Homo sapiens: one gene and its partner. The protein of the gene in region 2 interacts with the protein of the main gene of each other region in a biochemical or structural test. Each region holds a gene or a part of one and is shown on either strand. Other genes may lie near its edges.

Evidence for each region.
Region 1: the proteins of TOP3B (region 2) and TDRD3 form a complex in vitro, tested with the Homo sapiens proteins (2 studies listed by BioGRID and IntAct, with this or other methods).

The regions. Positions count from the first base shown.
Region 1 is NC_000013.11:60,393,051-60,400,219, reverse strand, and holds the start of TDRD3 (tudor domain-containing protein 3), read right to left. Parts: upstream 3,001-7,169; 5' UTR 2,856-3,000; coding exon 2,815-2,855; intron 1-2,814. UniProt on the Homo sapiens protein: Scaffolding protein that specifically recognizes and binds dimethylarginine-containing proteins. Plays a role in the regulation of translation of target mRNAs by binding Arg/Gly-rich motifs (GAR) in dimethylarginine-containing proteins.
Region 2 is NC_000022.11:21,958,748-21,965,833, reverse strand, and holds part of TOP3B (DNA topoisomerase 3-beta-1), read left to right. Parts: intron 1-458; coding exon 459-549; intron 550-1,518; coding exon 1,519-1,673; intron 1,674-1,805; coding exon 1,806-1,911; intron 1,912-2,940; coding exon 2,941-3,087; intron 3,088-3,231; coding exon 3,232-3,405; intron 3,406-5,384; coding exon 5,385-5,513; intron 5,514-6,097; coding exon 6,098-6,247; intron 6,248-6,601; coding exon 6,602-6,702; intron 6,703-7,086. UniProt on the Homo sapiens protein: Releases the supercoiling and torsional tension of DNA introduced during the DNA replication and transcription by transiently cleaving and rejoining one strand of the DNA duplex.

The DNA of each region.
Region 1 (7,169 bases), on a different chromosome or scaffold from region 2:
TTGTTATCTAGATAAATTCAGAGTCAAATTTCTTCTCCCCGTGAAGTTATTCCATGCATATAATTAAGCTTTACAAGGTACCATTTAGTGCATTATTTAAACATTATCACTACTCTGTAGAAAGCCCTGGAACATTCAAGTTCAAATCAGCAAAATCTAATAGTTTGTGTGCTACTGGCCATTGAAGAACAAAAATTATTTTAAGTCCGCCAGGTAGCTACTTTTGAAGTTATATTTTAAAATACTGATTTTTATAGGGGTTCTAATGAAGATTAAAACCTTAAGAAGGAAAAAAACTGCGCTTAAAAATAATGTAAACTTGAACAGATTGGTCTACATAGATCTTCTGTACCCCCCTGAAGATCACATTTTCAGAATTGTAAACTTTTCAGCACTAAATATTTCCCTAATCTGCTATTTTAGGTGAAGCCTATAGAACAGATTTAACAATAGTGTGTCCATGTTTTAGCATCTACTTCTTTTTAGCTTCTACAAGTAACTAAGTACATAGATTTGAATACTAAGAAAAATGGTTTGTCAGTGACAGTTAACAGAGAACCCCAAGTGTAAGAGCAAACTCAGGATATAAGAACTAAAATGAGTTGGTGAAAGCCCTTCAGTCAGAAATTTTCCCTCCAGTGCTCTTTTCTGCCTTTAAACCTTTGTGATTCTAAATTTTAACATAGTAAGTCCCCAATTAAAGACCTAGTAGAAGCCACCTGAAAGCCTAGGAGATCCTCATGCCTAGTCTGTTCGAGACCTAGCAGGAATTACATGAAACTCACAATTCCTAGAAAGATAGTGTTTTTAGCCCCGCAGATTACTACTGCCTTTATGAGTCACTGCCATACAGAAGCAGCACAGACAGGTGGGAGAAACATAAACAGTTAAGTTGCAATATAAAGTAGCAAATGCTACAATATAACATTGCTGAAGATTTATAACAATATAACGAAGCAGGGTGGGACTCTACCTAAGCTTCTGCAGAGGCCCTGCCCAGAGAATTCTGACTGGCAGGGGCATTCCAAGGTCAACTGTATTAGACTTTACAGAGAACCTACAATCTGGTGCATTTCTTGACAATCCAGATAAGGAGAAAAATAAGACTCACTTCCCTGCCCTGGAAAAGCATAAGAGGCCAGAGAAAACAAAGTCAACACGTGTTCGGGACCTAAAAAATGAGACTAATCTTTCCAAAGGAGGGGGGGTCATGTTGGAAAGCAGTAAAATACTGAGTTTGTAAATGAAAATATTACTAGTGTGAAGGATCAACGCTCAACCTAATGAGAAATGGGGAGAAAGGCAAATGAAAGAGGGATCCAAGATTATTCAGGACACCCTTGTGGGTAAAAAAACTGAAAGAAGAGATTCCTATTGAACAGAAACAAAACTGAAGACAGTGTTTTTAACTCTACAATCTTTTACGCCCATGCTGTTCTGCGAAAAAACTGTAACAACAATAACGCATAAGCGTTAAAGGAACCAGGCCCAGAGCCAGGCCCTCTGTGCTCAACATTCAACTCCACCACTTTCTAGCTATGTCATTTTGGGAAAGTTACTTAACAGCTCTTTGCCTCAGTCTCCTCACCTGTAAAATGGGGTGTATAATAACACAAGTGCCTTTAAAATCAGGAGGGGCTTCTTCAAAGCACAGTTGTGATTATATCCCTCTACTGATCAAAAACTTTATTCACAAAATCAAATCCACATCTTTCACGAACCATATAGATCTTGTGTAGGTTCTGCAAAACAATAAGCGCTTCCCTGTGTCATCTCCAGCAGCTCTGTGCTAGAAAGCCTTTTCCTTACCATCTTTCCAAGTCCACTTTAGGAAAGTAACTCTCCCTCCCATTCCACAGTGCACTCATCTGTTCCTCTGTACGTACGGTTTATCACTATTCCCCCTGGTTTTGTTTGGTCTTTTAATGCCTCACTCTTTCTCCTAAAGCAGTAATTGCAGAGAGCCGTTGCAAATCTTTTTCATCCCCGTTCCTACCCTTCATCCCAGAATGTGCCTGTGCAAGCCTGGGAAAAGCGTTACTGAATTAAACGGGATGATTACAACCGTAATGGCCGCAATTCCAGAAACTGCCTAATTTCGCATAATTTTGTATTGTTTTCAAATCCTGAAAATCTTGACACGAAAGGCCTCTTAAAATCAGAACACCATCCTTTCAAGAAAAGTTCTACCGAGCACCCCCACGAGTTGACATTGCGGTCATTCTTAGCTCCAGAAGTTGTGTGTGTGCCGCGGAAGGCAGATTCACACTGGTCCACACTGTACTTTGAAATAAGGGGTAAGAAGAGGCGGCTCCGGCCGCAGCGCGGGCTGTGCTCTGCTCTGCCCTCAACTTCCTATGGGCCCGCGGGCTCCGGCCGCGTTCGTCCCTCTCCGCCGCACTTCGTTCCCAGCCCTCGCCTCCCGATCCCGCTGCAGAAACACCCCCTCCCCGGAGAAGCCGCGCGGACGGCGCTGCAGGTCCTCCCCGGCGCTCCGGTCGGCCGGGGTCTGGGCCGCCACCCGCCCGGCTCGCGGCCCCCGGCCTCTCCCCAGGCCCGCCGCCCGCCGCCCGGGGCCCAGGCCCGCCGCCCGGGGCCCAGGCCGCCGCCGCCGCCGCCTCCAGGGGACCTAGGGGAACTCGCAGGGCTCCGCGTGGCGCCGGGGGCGGAGCCGGCCCGAAGGGCCCGGGGAGAGGCCGGGGGCGGACGACAGCCTCCGCCTACCCCGACACGCACCCCGCCGCCCCCAACCCAACCTCCCTGGGGCCCCGGCCCGCACCCGCGGCCCGGCAGCCGGCGGGACTCGCCACTTACCAACCCGCCTGGGACAACGCCGCGCCGGCCACCTGGGCCATGGTAGCTGCTTAGGCCGGGGGTGGTGGGGGGCTGGGGTGGGGGTGATGGGGAGGCCTCCTACTTGAGACCCCCCCCCTTAAAAAAAAAAAAAGAAAAGAAAAGAAAAAACTCCTCTGGTCGGCTCTGCAACTGGGCATGCTCAGTGCGGCCGGCGCTTCCGCGTGCGGGTTCCGCTCGCCGCGTTTTCTGAGCGGCCGTAGGGGCCGGCCTGGTGTGGGGCTCCCAGGCTGCGGAGCTCCGGGACCTGATCCACCAAACACCGGCTGGTGGCTGGAGTCAGGACGGTTCAGGGACTTTGCCTCTTCCCCGAAGGCTTTTACTTGTTTTGGGGGGCGCTTTTCTGAGTTGCACACCTTGGAAAGTCGCGAGGAGGTTCTTCGTAGAGCAAAAGTGTGGCGTTTGCAGCGCCCACAGGCGGCCACCTCAGAGAGGGCAGGATAAGGCCTGAGGAGACTGACGGGTTGGCTGCGAGGGAACGCGTCCAGGACCGCGCTAAAAAGGTCACGTTGCGGGCAGCAAAACTCAGAGGTGTCCCCAGCCCATTCTGCACAAAAGTTTACTTTCTTATAAACACTCGTTCCCTTCACCTCGCCTTTTGGTCCGCCCGGACGCAAAGAAAAAATGCAGCTCAAGCTTTTTTGAGTCCCCGCGGGCAGATCGAGTTGCCCCAGTCGGACACCACAGTGAAAATGCCCTGGTCAGCCCAAGAAAACCTGCTTTTAGGGGACATGGGGAAATGGGGCAGTTGTGTCAGTGCTTGTTTTTCCTGTTGCCCTCCCCCTGGGACCATCCGTGTCCTAGCGCGGCCCTGCCACCTTGGCTCTGTACTGCCAGATCTGGCAACCACAGCCGCTTCCCCGCCGATGCCCTTCGCCCGCGCTGTAGAGGGCTGGGGCGCAGGGTGGGTCCCTGAGTGGGCATGCGCGCCGCCGTCGCCCAGCGGCACGGCGGACGCTACCGCGCGATTGGGCGTCCGTGACTCACGCTGGCCAATCAGAGAGGAACAGGCGGAAGGGTACGCGGGCCCAAGAGGCGCTCCCTAAAAGTTTGCTCCACCTTCTTGGTCTTTCACCTCTGCGGCGTCCCGTATTGCGGGGAAAAAGGCTTCTAAGGGGCAGCGTCCCCATCTGCCAGGTCAGGGGAAGAAGACTGTTAGGAACTTAATCCCTATCTCCGCCGCTTGCCGCTGCCCCTGCTTCTAAGGGCATCATCAAAAACAGACTTGGAGCAGAGACTGCGGAACTGGGCAGAGGCGCTCTTGGGATTGGGGAGGAAATTGGCAGTTACGGAAGGAAGGGGATAATTGCCCTGGGTGGAGCTAAAATTCCTTAATACAGATTTTTCTCATTTCAGCTGGGGTATTCCGTTTGGTCTTCCCAAAAGTCATAGTTATAAAATCGCGATGCTTTCGTTAGATGGAATGCTATTGAGATTTGCTCCCAAGTATATTGTTTAGATAATTTTAGATCACAAGTAGCTCCATCCTGTTCGCTGCAATGTGCAGTAGTATGCAGTGTTTAAGTCATACGTATGCTACAGGTATATTTCAATTTATAGTCATCGGCCATCATATACAGGAGCCAGGAATAGATATGCCATTTTAAAGGTAAATAGATGACTCAAAAATAAATTGCCAATAATTTTTATTGGCGGTTAGAATTTTCTGTTACCAATTATTTACATTTTTCAGTTAGTGTAACCTGTTAACTATGAAAATATGTTGTACCAATCATCAGAATTTCTCACTGGTTATAAAGTCATTTGTTCTCACATGTCGTGTGATTCAGTAAGGATTTACCACTGCATGGTCCTTACAATAATAAAGTACTCCACAAAACACTAAATTCTCTTAAAGAATGGGTTTTTTACTGGAGAAATGTGGGACAACATGAGCATCCAAAAAATGGTGACAATAATTGATGAAACACATTGAATTTCTTCGGAGTGCCACCAAAAATGAAGGAGGACAAAATCTTTTCTTTCAGAGCAATACAAGATAGTAAATGTAGAACAAATGATAGAATTAGAAAAATCACAGTTTTCCAAGTCAACCACAATTGATAGAGGAAAATTTATCAGACGATACTAAAAGCCACAGGGTAAAAGACTAGGAGTACAGGATCTTCACATGGTCTCAAAGTTTCAAGCCATAACTTACTTATTACAGAAGGGAAAATGTAGCTTTACCTTTTAAAAAAAAAAATCACTGCCTTAAGAGATCAAAGCTAGAATCACTAATAATGGGACAATCTAATGTATTCTGCTTACTGATGTAATGCAACTAGACATACACATCACTTAAGAAGTATTCTTGCCAAAATGGTTTAACCTGAGTTTAACCAAGCTTGTGGACAGTGGATCCTAAACCAACCCCCACACCCCCAAATCCATTTAGCAATGTCTAGGTTGTCACAATCTGAGGAGGTAGGAGTGTTGTTATGCATCTCATGGGATGCAGCAGGAATGCTGCTAAATATCCTACAAAGCACAGGACATCGCTGAACTCCAAAGAATGATGTGGCCCAGAATGTCAGTAATGCTAAGGTCTAGATGTAAGAAGAAATGTAAAGGACGTATAGGTGATATTTGAGCAAGTTAAACATGAAGACGCAGGCACATAAATCCACAATGAGGCATATTCTCCTCTGGCCTAGACTGTTAAAATGTAATTTAAGACTTTTTTTTTTTTGAGACGGGAGTCTCGCTCTGCCGCCCAGGCTGGAGTGCAGTGGCACGATCTCGGCTCACTGCAACCTCGGCCTCCCGGTTCAAGCGATTCTCCTGCCTCAGCTTCCCGAGTAGCTGGGACTACAGGAGCCTGCTACCGCGCCTGGCTAATTTTTTGTATTTTTAGTAAAGACCGGGTTTCACCGTGTTTGCCAGGATGGTCTGGATCTTGTGACCTCGTGATCCGCACGCCTCGCCTCCCAAAGTGCTGGGATCACAGGCGTGAGCCACCTCGCCCGGCCAGAAATAATTCTTTAGAAAAAAAAAAAGAAGGCTGGGCGCAGGGGCTCACGCCTGTAATCCCAGCACTTTGGGAGGCCAAGGCGGGCGGATCACGAGATCGGGAGATCGAAACCATCCTGGCTAACACGGTGAAACCCCGACTCCACTAAAAATACCAAAAAAAAAAAAAATTAGCCGGGCGCGGTGGCAGGCTCCTGTAGTCCCAGTTACTCCGGAGGCTGAGGCAGGAGAATGGCGGGAACCCCGGAGGCCGAGCTGGCAGTGAGCCGAGATCGCGCCATTGCACTCCAGCCTAGGCGACAGAGCGAGACTCTGTCTCAAAAAAAAAAAAAATATTATTTCAGATTTAAGAGATGCAAGAGACATGAAAACAAAATTCAATCCTGGATCTAAAAAATAAATGAAAAAAATAATTACTGGTGGCCAATTGCAGAAATTTGAATCTGGACTGGATATTGGATAGTATAATGGAATATGGTTTTCTTAAATGTGATAATGTTATTGTCCTTAAATTGAGAATTTTATGTCAAAACATTTATGGATGAAGAAGAATTGGATCTACAAGTTATTTGCAAATGAGTAAGAGAAATACATTTGTAAAATATATAAAACATATAAACATTGATACATGTATATAGGTAAGAAAGAGAAAGGAGGCTGAGGCAGGAGAGTCGCTTGAACCCAGGCGGCGGAAGTTGCAGTGAGCCCAGATCGCGCCACTGCACTCCAGCCTGGCGACAGAGCGGGCCTCCGTCTCAAAAAAAAAAAGGAAAAAAGAGAAAGGAGGTAAATATGGCAAAATATTAAAAATGGGTGAATCAGTTGGAGGAGGGTCCACATGTTTATTTTTTTTCTCTAGGTTTGAAATTTTCCAAAATAAAAAGAAGCGTGGATTACACTAATTTCACATCAAAATTTTAAATTGGAATTATGTTCTGTATAGATAATTTAGTGCCATGAAAAATGGTAATAGCTAACTAGATAAAATGAATTTCCATTTTTAATTAGATAAATCATTGATTTACAGAAAATAGAAAGTCTACAATGAGCTGAAGTTGGGGGAAACCCTAAGGGTAGAAAAAAAAATTGTTAGGTCCAAGAAAACAAAAACGAGGAATGAAATCTATTTCGAGTCTGTGGTAAATTAACAGAAGAGAGAGACTGAAAATCCATTCTCCTCTGTTTCGCCTCTTATCATTTTAGTAAAGGAAAAGTTTCTCAGACTGAAAAGGGTAAAAGAATATGGGTAAGTAAGAATAGAAGCTACAATAAAAAGTGAGATGATAAGAGTGCCTGGCCCTCTGAGGCAAATTACATCTTGTGACTGTAAGCCATTTGCATCC
Region 2 (7,086 bases):
GGATTACAATGGCGTGGTCTCAGCTCACTGCAACCTTCACCTCCCAGGTTCAAGCAATTCTGCCTCAGCGTCACGAGTAGCTTGGATTACAGGCACGTTCCACCATGCCCAGCTAATGTTTGTATTTTTAGTAGAGACGGGGTTTCACCATCTTGGTCAAGCTGGTCTCGAACTCCTGACCTCAGGTGATCCACCCGCCTCAGCCTCCCAAAGTACTGGGATTACAGGCGTGAGCCACCACACCCAGCCAAAATTTTTTTTTAAAAAAGAATTTTCATTCTTTTTCCTTTCCTGGTCCTGAATAAATATTCAATCAAGTCTTTAGACTGTTGGGAAGAATGAATTGGAGAAACAGGGAGACCAGATGAATGAAACCAGACCCTTCGTCCACACATCTTGATTCCCTCTATGGTGGTGTCTTCCTCCTTCCCCAAATCATTGACTGTCCTGTCTTCCAGGTGGAGGCCACAAGCAGGAAAGAAAAGGCCAAGCAGAGGCCCCTGGCCCTGAACACTGTGGAGATGCTGCGTGTGGCCAGCTCTTCTCTGGGTATGTAGGGACATTTCTCTCAAGTCACCAGAAGGCTTCCTGAGGCAGGTTCAGCCTGGAGCAGCGAGTGCCCAGGGTTGCAGGATGGTGCCCAAGGCTTCAAGGGGATCTGAGCCTCAGGAGGATTTCACTTATCCTTAGGTTGTAAAGGTGGTAAAGTTGGTCACCACCTGAGGGGACCTCCTGATGTTAGAGTCCCTGAGCAGCTATCCCTGGTGAGGGGAGAGGCCCCAGCCAGATGTCACCTTCAGGGAACCAGTGTGAACGTCGCCCCTCAGCCTCATCTCCTCAGTCTTTTCTCCTTAGTAACGAGGAGGGGGTTGGGCTGGAAAGCTGGTGGTCTCTGGCAGCTGTCAGCCCCTAGGCATTGGTGCCCCCCACCCCCGCAGGGAACTATGGGCAGTGTCCTCTCAGTGGACACTGAGTGGTGGCTCCAGCGTCCTCAGAGGGCAGCAATGCTGGGAGTGGTTGCTAGCTAAGCGCCTGCCTCTGCTGGTCAGGGAGTAGCAGGACGAGCCCCCCTGAGTGGCCCCAAAGTGCTGTGAGGACAGAAACACCCAAGGGCTCAAAATGGGGCTGCGTGCTAACTCTGTCGTCAGCCAACCCCGAGGTATGGTTATGGCTCCATGGACAATGCATGGGGAGTGGTGCTCTGAAGGCCATGTGTCATCCCCATGGCCATGAGCCCCATGAGGATGCACCGTGGGGTAGAGTGAGTGGCGTTTCCCATCAGGCCCATCCTGGGTGTAGGATTCAGCCTTACGGGTGCGGGATTCAGCCTCATACAAGACTGTGTGGCATAGGTGCCCACCCGGCCAGCAGCTTTGCACTCCAGCTGTGCCTGCTCAGAGCCACCGTCACCCTCCAGGAGGGGCCGGCCACAATGGGGGAGCCTGAGTGCATAGGCCAGGGCAGGCAGCTGGCCATCCCCACGTACCTGGCCCTCTGAGAACCTCCTGTCTCTCGCAGGCATGGGGCCGCAGCACGCCATGCAGACGGCTGAGCGGCTCTACACGCAAGGCTACATCAGCTACCCACGGACAGAGACCACCCACTACCCTGAGAACTTTGACCTGAAGGGCTCTCTGCGGCAGCAGGCCAACCACCCCTACTGGGCCGACACGGTGAGTGGAGCCGGGCCGGCCTCAGCATGTGTGTGTGTCACTGAGGCCTTGGGACCAGGTCTGGTACGTCAGCCAAACCCAGGCAGGCAGCCGAGCCCAGCCACAGACTCTGCTCTGTCTTCTCTCCCTCAGGTGAAGCGGTTGTTAGCAGAAGGTATCAACCGCCCGCGGAAAGGCCATGACGCCGGCGACCATCCCCCCATCACCCCCATGAAGTCTGCCACAGAGGCCGAATTAGGTACCGCTCTCATCCCATACCCGGTGTGCTTCCAGGGAGGGAAGGGCGAGCTGCGACAGTGAAGGTTGCAGGCCCTGTTGGCAATGTGGGGGCTCCTTCAGCCTCTGCCTGCCCTGGCTGTGGGGATGGGGGGCCACCTGGAAGATGAGCTCCATTGCTATGGGACCAGGACAGGAGTGAAGAGGTAGCAGCAGGTGCTGTTGCAGGGAGGCAAGGGGGCAGACGCCACAGGGGACATGAATGAAACCAGGGTAGAGAGTGGCGGTGTGGGGGAGGGGGCAGCACACCTCCTACCTCCCAGCTGGCCTAAGGTGGTACCAGTGGTCCGAGTGCCAGGAGAAGGCAAATGAGGAAGGGAGAGCAGTGCAGGTAGAGACAGGAGCCACCTGTGGACAGTCTGAGTTTGAAGCAATGGTGTCATGTCACGAGACAATGGAAAGACAGGCCAATGCCTGAAGAGCAGTCCCGCCAGAAGCAGGGACAGGAGGTTGTGCAGGATGGTGGGAGCCGCAGCCAGAAAGAAACCACTGAGGCATGGAGGCTTGTGTTCCCTTCCTCCGCATTTGCTTTTTTTTTTTCTTTTTTTGAGACAGAGTCTTGTTCTGTCACCCAGGCTGGAGTGCAGTGGCCCGATCTCGGCTCACTGCAACCTCTGCCTCCCAGGTTCAAGCAGTTCACCCTGCCTCAGCCCCCCGAGTAGCTGGGATTACAGGCTCCCACCACCACACCCAGCTAATTTCTTTGTATTTTTAGTAGAGACGGGGTTTCACCATGTTGGCCAGGCTGGTCTCAAACTCCTGACCTCAAGTGATCCATCCACCTTAGCCTCCCAGAGTGCTAGGATTACAGGCATGAGCCACCACGCCCGGCCTTCCTGCACATTTTCTTTCCTCCTTCCCCAGGATTTGCAGTGTGTCCTGCACAGCGGCTCTGTAAGCAGGAGCTTGCTGCTCGAGCGAGAGTACTGGGGGCTCCTCACGGCCAGAGCCCCCAGCTGGCTCCCAACTGACTAGCCCTGGCCTGTTGCAGGGGGTGACGCGTGGCGGCTCTATGAGTACATCACCAGACACTTCATCGCCACGGTCAGCCATGACTGCAAGTACCTGCAGAGCACCATCTCCTTCAGAATTGGGCCCGAGCTCTTCACCTGCTCCGGGAAGACCGTCCTCTCACCAGGTCACACCACGGGCCCAGCCTTCCTCCTCTGTGCCTTCATGGGCAGACAAACATTCTACATCGTGTCTGGGGATGGGAGGCCCAGGGTCTGAGGCCCCGGCCACCCAGGCTGGGGACCCTGAGTGGCGGCGCATATCTCTCCAGGCTTCACGGAGGTCATGCCCTGGCAGAGCGTGCCCCTGGAGGAGAGCCTGCCCACTTGCCAGCGGGGTGATGCCTTCCCTGTGGGCGAGGTGAAGATGCTGGAGAAGCAGACGAACCCACCCGACTACCTGACGGAGGCCGAGCTCATCACGCTCATGGAGAAGCATGGCATCGGTGGGTGCGCCTGCCCAGGCCCCAGAGCCGGCTCCGTCTCCAGTACTCAGGCTTCGAGTCTACTCACAAAGCTGCCCCGCCAGCCCTGTGTGCCCAGCCCAGCACCCCTCCATGGGCTGGTATCTGGAAACTGGTGACCCAGTGTGTGGCCAGCCAGGCAGGTCCACAGCGGGCATCCCCTCCTGAGGCCTCCATTCAGGACCTGGCCTTCCCTGTGAAGGCCCAGATGTGCCCTCGTGCACTGTGGGGTGTGCACACACCGACTAACGCCCACAAGGCTGAAGATTGGCCCAGATGCCAGGTGACTCATAGAAATCATATTGGCAGTCCCCTGAGTCCACACAGCCAGCCTGGGCTGTCCTGAAATCAGGTGACAGGGAAATGAGATCTCACAGGAGCTGCTTCCCTGGGAGAGAACAGAAATGCCTGTCCCAGGCACAGGGCTCCCCAAAGGGTGACCAGGAAGTTTCCACGCAAAAATGGGCAGCCCAGGGAGTTTATCAAAGCAAAAGTGTAGTCACCAGTGCACACTCCTCACAGGAGTGGTGGCCTCACAAGTCCCCAGGCCTGGAGCTGTGAGATGTCTCACATGTTGGGGGCCAGCCTCACTGCCGGAGCCTTCTCCCCAGGTGGCACTCGCGCCGCTGGGCACTGCCTGTTCCCTGGGGCACTACCCCTGGCTGACAGGCTCTGGAGACCTGTGGGATGTCACAGCCACTGTGTCCAGGCTCTGCTCCAGCAGTGGTCATATAGGTGGACTCTCAGGGAGTGTCTCTTCCCAGGCTGGGGTCCTGGTGACCATGGCGATCTTGGCAGGAGAGCAGAGCTCTGGGCTTGCTCCTCTCAGGGGTCCAGGGCACCTGCCAGGGTCCTGAAATAGCCCTCAGCCCACTGTGGAGTGTGGGCTCTGCTCCCCCGTGTCCTCTGCCCTCTCGCATTGATGGGACACTGGCTCCTGGCAGCCCTATGCTAGCCAGTGAGCCAGACCCAATCACCAATACAAGTTTGTGACAGTGAAGAGGGCTCTGGTGTTACCTTCTGAACAGGAGAGTGGTCAGGGTGGCCCTGTGACTGAGCCCCCAGGAGTGTGTCAAAAGGGCCTGACCAGAGCCGCCACAGAGGAGCCCACACCACGCGTCATGGCGCCCGGCAGACTCGGGGTGGTAGTGGCACACGCCACCCACAGCCTGCCACACCGGGTGCAGAGCTGGCCTCGTGCCAAGAGCCATGGGCCCTCGGCAGGCTCCTTAGCCCCCAGAGGCCAGTTTCTTCCCATGTGAGATTCTCTCCGAGCTACTTTGGGAAGGTGTGTGTCACCTGTCCATGCTGGTGAGCATGCAGGGAGCCCCAGCCTCCTTTCTGCCCCTCTGACTGGCACCCGCCATAGTCAAAACGCCTCAGCCTCCGCTGCGCCCCTCTGCCAGGAAACTTCCTCTGGGTGGGAGAGTGGAATCCTGGGGACTGGGAGCCTCCCCTGGGGATCGTGACGGGCCTTGCAGAGAGGGAGGAGGTGGGAGACAGGAAGTGGACAGAATTGTCCAGGTTTAGGGGAGGGCAGCTCTGCAGTGAGCTTGTAAGCACCTCCGTGTTCTGGTGGAGTGGGGCTCTGGCTCCGGGAGCAGGTGGGTGCCACAGGACCCAGGCAGGAGAAGCCATAGAAGTCACATTTTCCAGGCGCAGAATAAGCACTGTGACCTTGGAGAGTTCCTTAACCTCCGAGCCTGTTGTCTCTGCCATAAAGCAGGAGTAGGCGCCCTGTACAGGGAGGGCTGCCCTTGTGTTCTCAAGGCAGAACATGAAATGCATGCAGTTGGTGCCCAGCACAGTGCAGGGGGAGCTCAGGGCACAGCCCTCCCTCCTGTGACCGGGAGCAGTGAGAGGGCCTGAGCACCAGGGGCCCCGTGACAGGTGATACAGCACATGGTTCAGTGGGGCATGTCCAAGGCAGGCCAGGAACCCTGGGGCCTTGTACATTGCAGGCACGGATGCCAGCATCCCTGTGCATATCAACAACATCTGCCAGCGCAACTATGTCACGGTGGAGAGCGGGCGCCGGCTCAAGCCCACCAACCTCGGCATCGTCCTGGTGCACGGCTACTATAAGATTGGTGAGTTCCTCAGTCCTGCCCCCAGGGCCCACCGAGGCTCCCTGGCTTCTCCCTGGATGTTGGCTCTGCTGCCCGCTCCAGACAGGCCCCTGCCCTACAGTGATCCCCCAGCCCCACACACACTCCCTCAACACCCGCTGAAGGGGTGCTGCCCCAGGACCCCCAGGACCTGCCCAGAGCAGGAGCTCAGTGTGTTTGAAGGCTGAACAGATGTGTGAGGGAACCAAAAAGGGAGGCGAAGTTGCCTCAGCCCTGTTCCCTGGAGGTTCCCCAGGGGCCAAGGGGAGAGGGAGGAGCACAAAACTGGCCCAAGGGCGGCCTGGAGCTCATGTGTGATGTGGTTCTAGCCACAGGACATCCCTGGCCACTCTGCCTGACATTTCCAGGTGGGAAATCAGGAAAGGTCTGGGGTCATAAGAGCCAGCCTGGTACCATCTGAGGCTGTGGACTGGTGGGTAGGGCAGAGGCCAGGAGGACGGGCCAGAGCGGGAGGGGTGAACAGGGCAGTATCCCTGCCTGGGAAGGGGTGGCATGGCCCTGGGTGCGAGTGCTCAGGGCAATATCTGCCCCCTGCCCACTTGCAGATGCAGAGCTGGTGCTCCCCACCATCCGCAGTGCAGTGGAGAAGCAGCTGAACCTGATCGCCCAGGGCAAGGCCGACTACCGCCAGGTCCTGGGCCACACCCTGGACGTGTTCAAGAGGAAGTTCCACTACTTTGTCGACTCCATTGCTGGTAGAGTCTGCCTCTGGCCTGCCCCTCACCAGAGGGGTGTCTCTCTGTCAGCAAGGCCAGTACCTGGGGACCCAGGTCCCCACGTGGGACCAGCTCCCAGATCTGGGCTTCAGGCCTCCGTAGGCCAGGTCAGTGACACCTCCTGGCTGGGTTGAAAGAGCAGGTGCATTAACACCACACATGGCCAGGAACACGTGCCTCTGACGCACAGGGCTGCTGCCCTGCCGTGCTGCCAGGACAGTAGAAACCACCGCCTATAGGGACCCTTTCACACTCAGACCCTTGACCACGTGTTGCGGAGCCTTTTGCTGGGGACTGGGAGGGAGATGACTCCTGCACTCTGCTTGCCCGCAGGCATGGATGAGTTGATGGAGGTGTCTTTCTCGCCCCTGGCGGCCACAGGCAAGCCCCTCTCACGCTGTGGGAAGTGCCACCGCTTCATGAAGTACATCCAGGTAGGTGCAGGGAACACTAGCTCAGGCAAGCTGCCTCACCCCTGTAGGCCTCAGCTTTATCGTTGATCAGCAGGAATCATGTTCTTTGTCCTGGTTGTCACAAAAGAATGATGGAACATAAAGAGGCCTTGCCAAAAAATACCCAGTGTCCCCACGTCCCCTAGAATACACAGCCATTAGGCCACGCAAACACACATGGTGCATTTTTCCCTAACACCATGCCACTTGCCATCATGGGCATTAATGTACACACAGAGATTTTAGAACTGCCTTTTCTGCACGCGTGGAGCAAGAGCCAGAGACTCATGCTCCTTGCCTGGCAGTGTGTCACAGGTTCTGCATGACAGATTACATACTTTGTATTATGAGAGGAGTGGGGGTGGG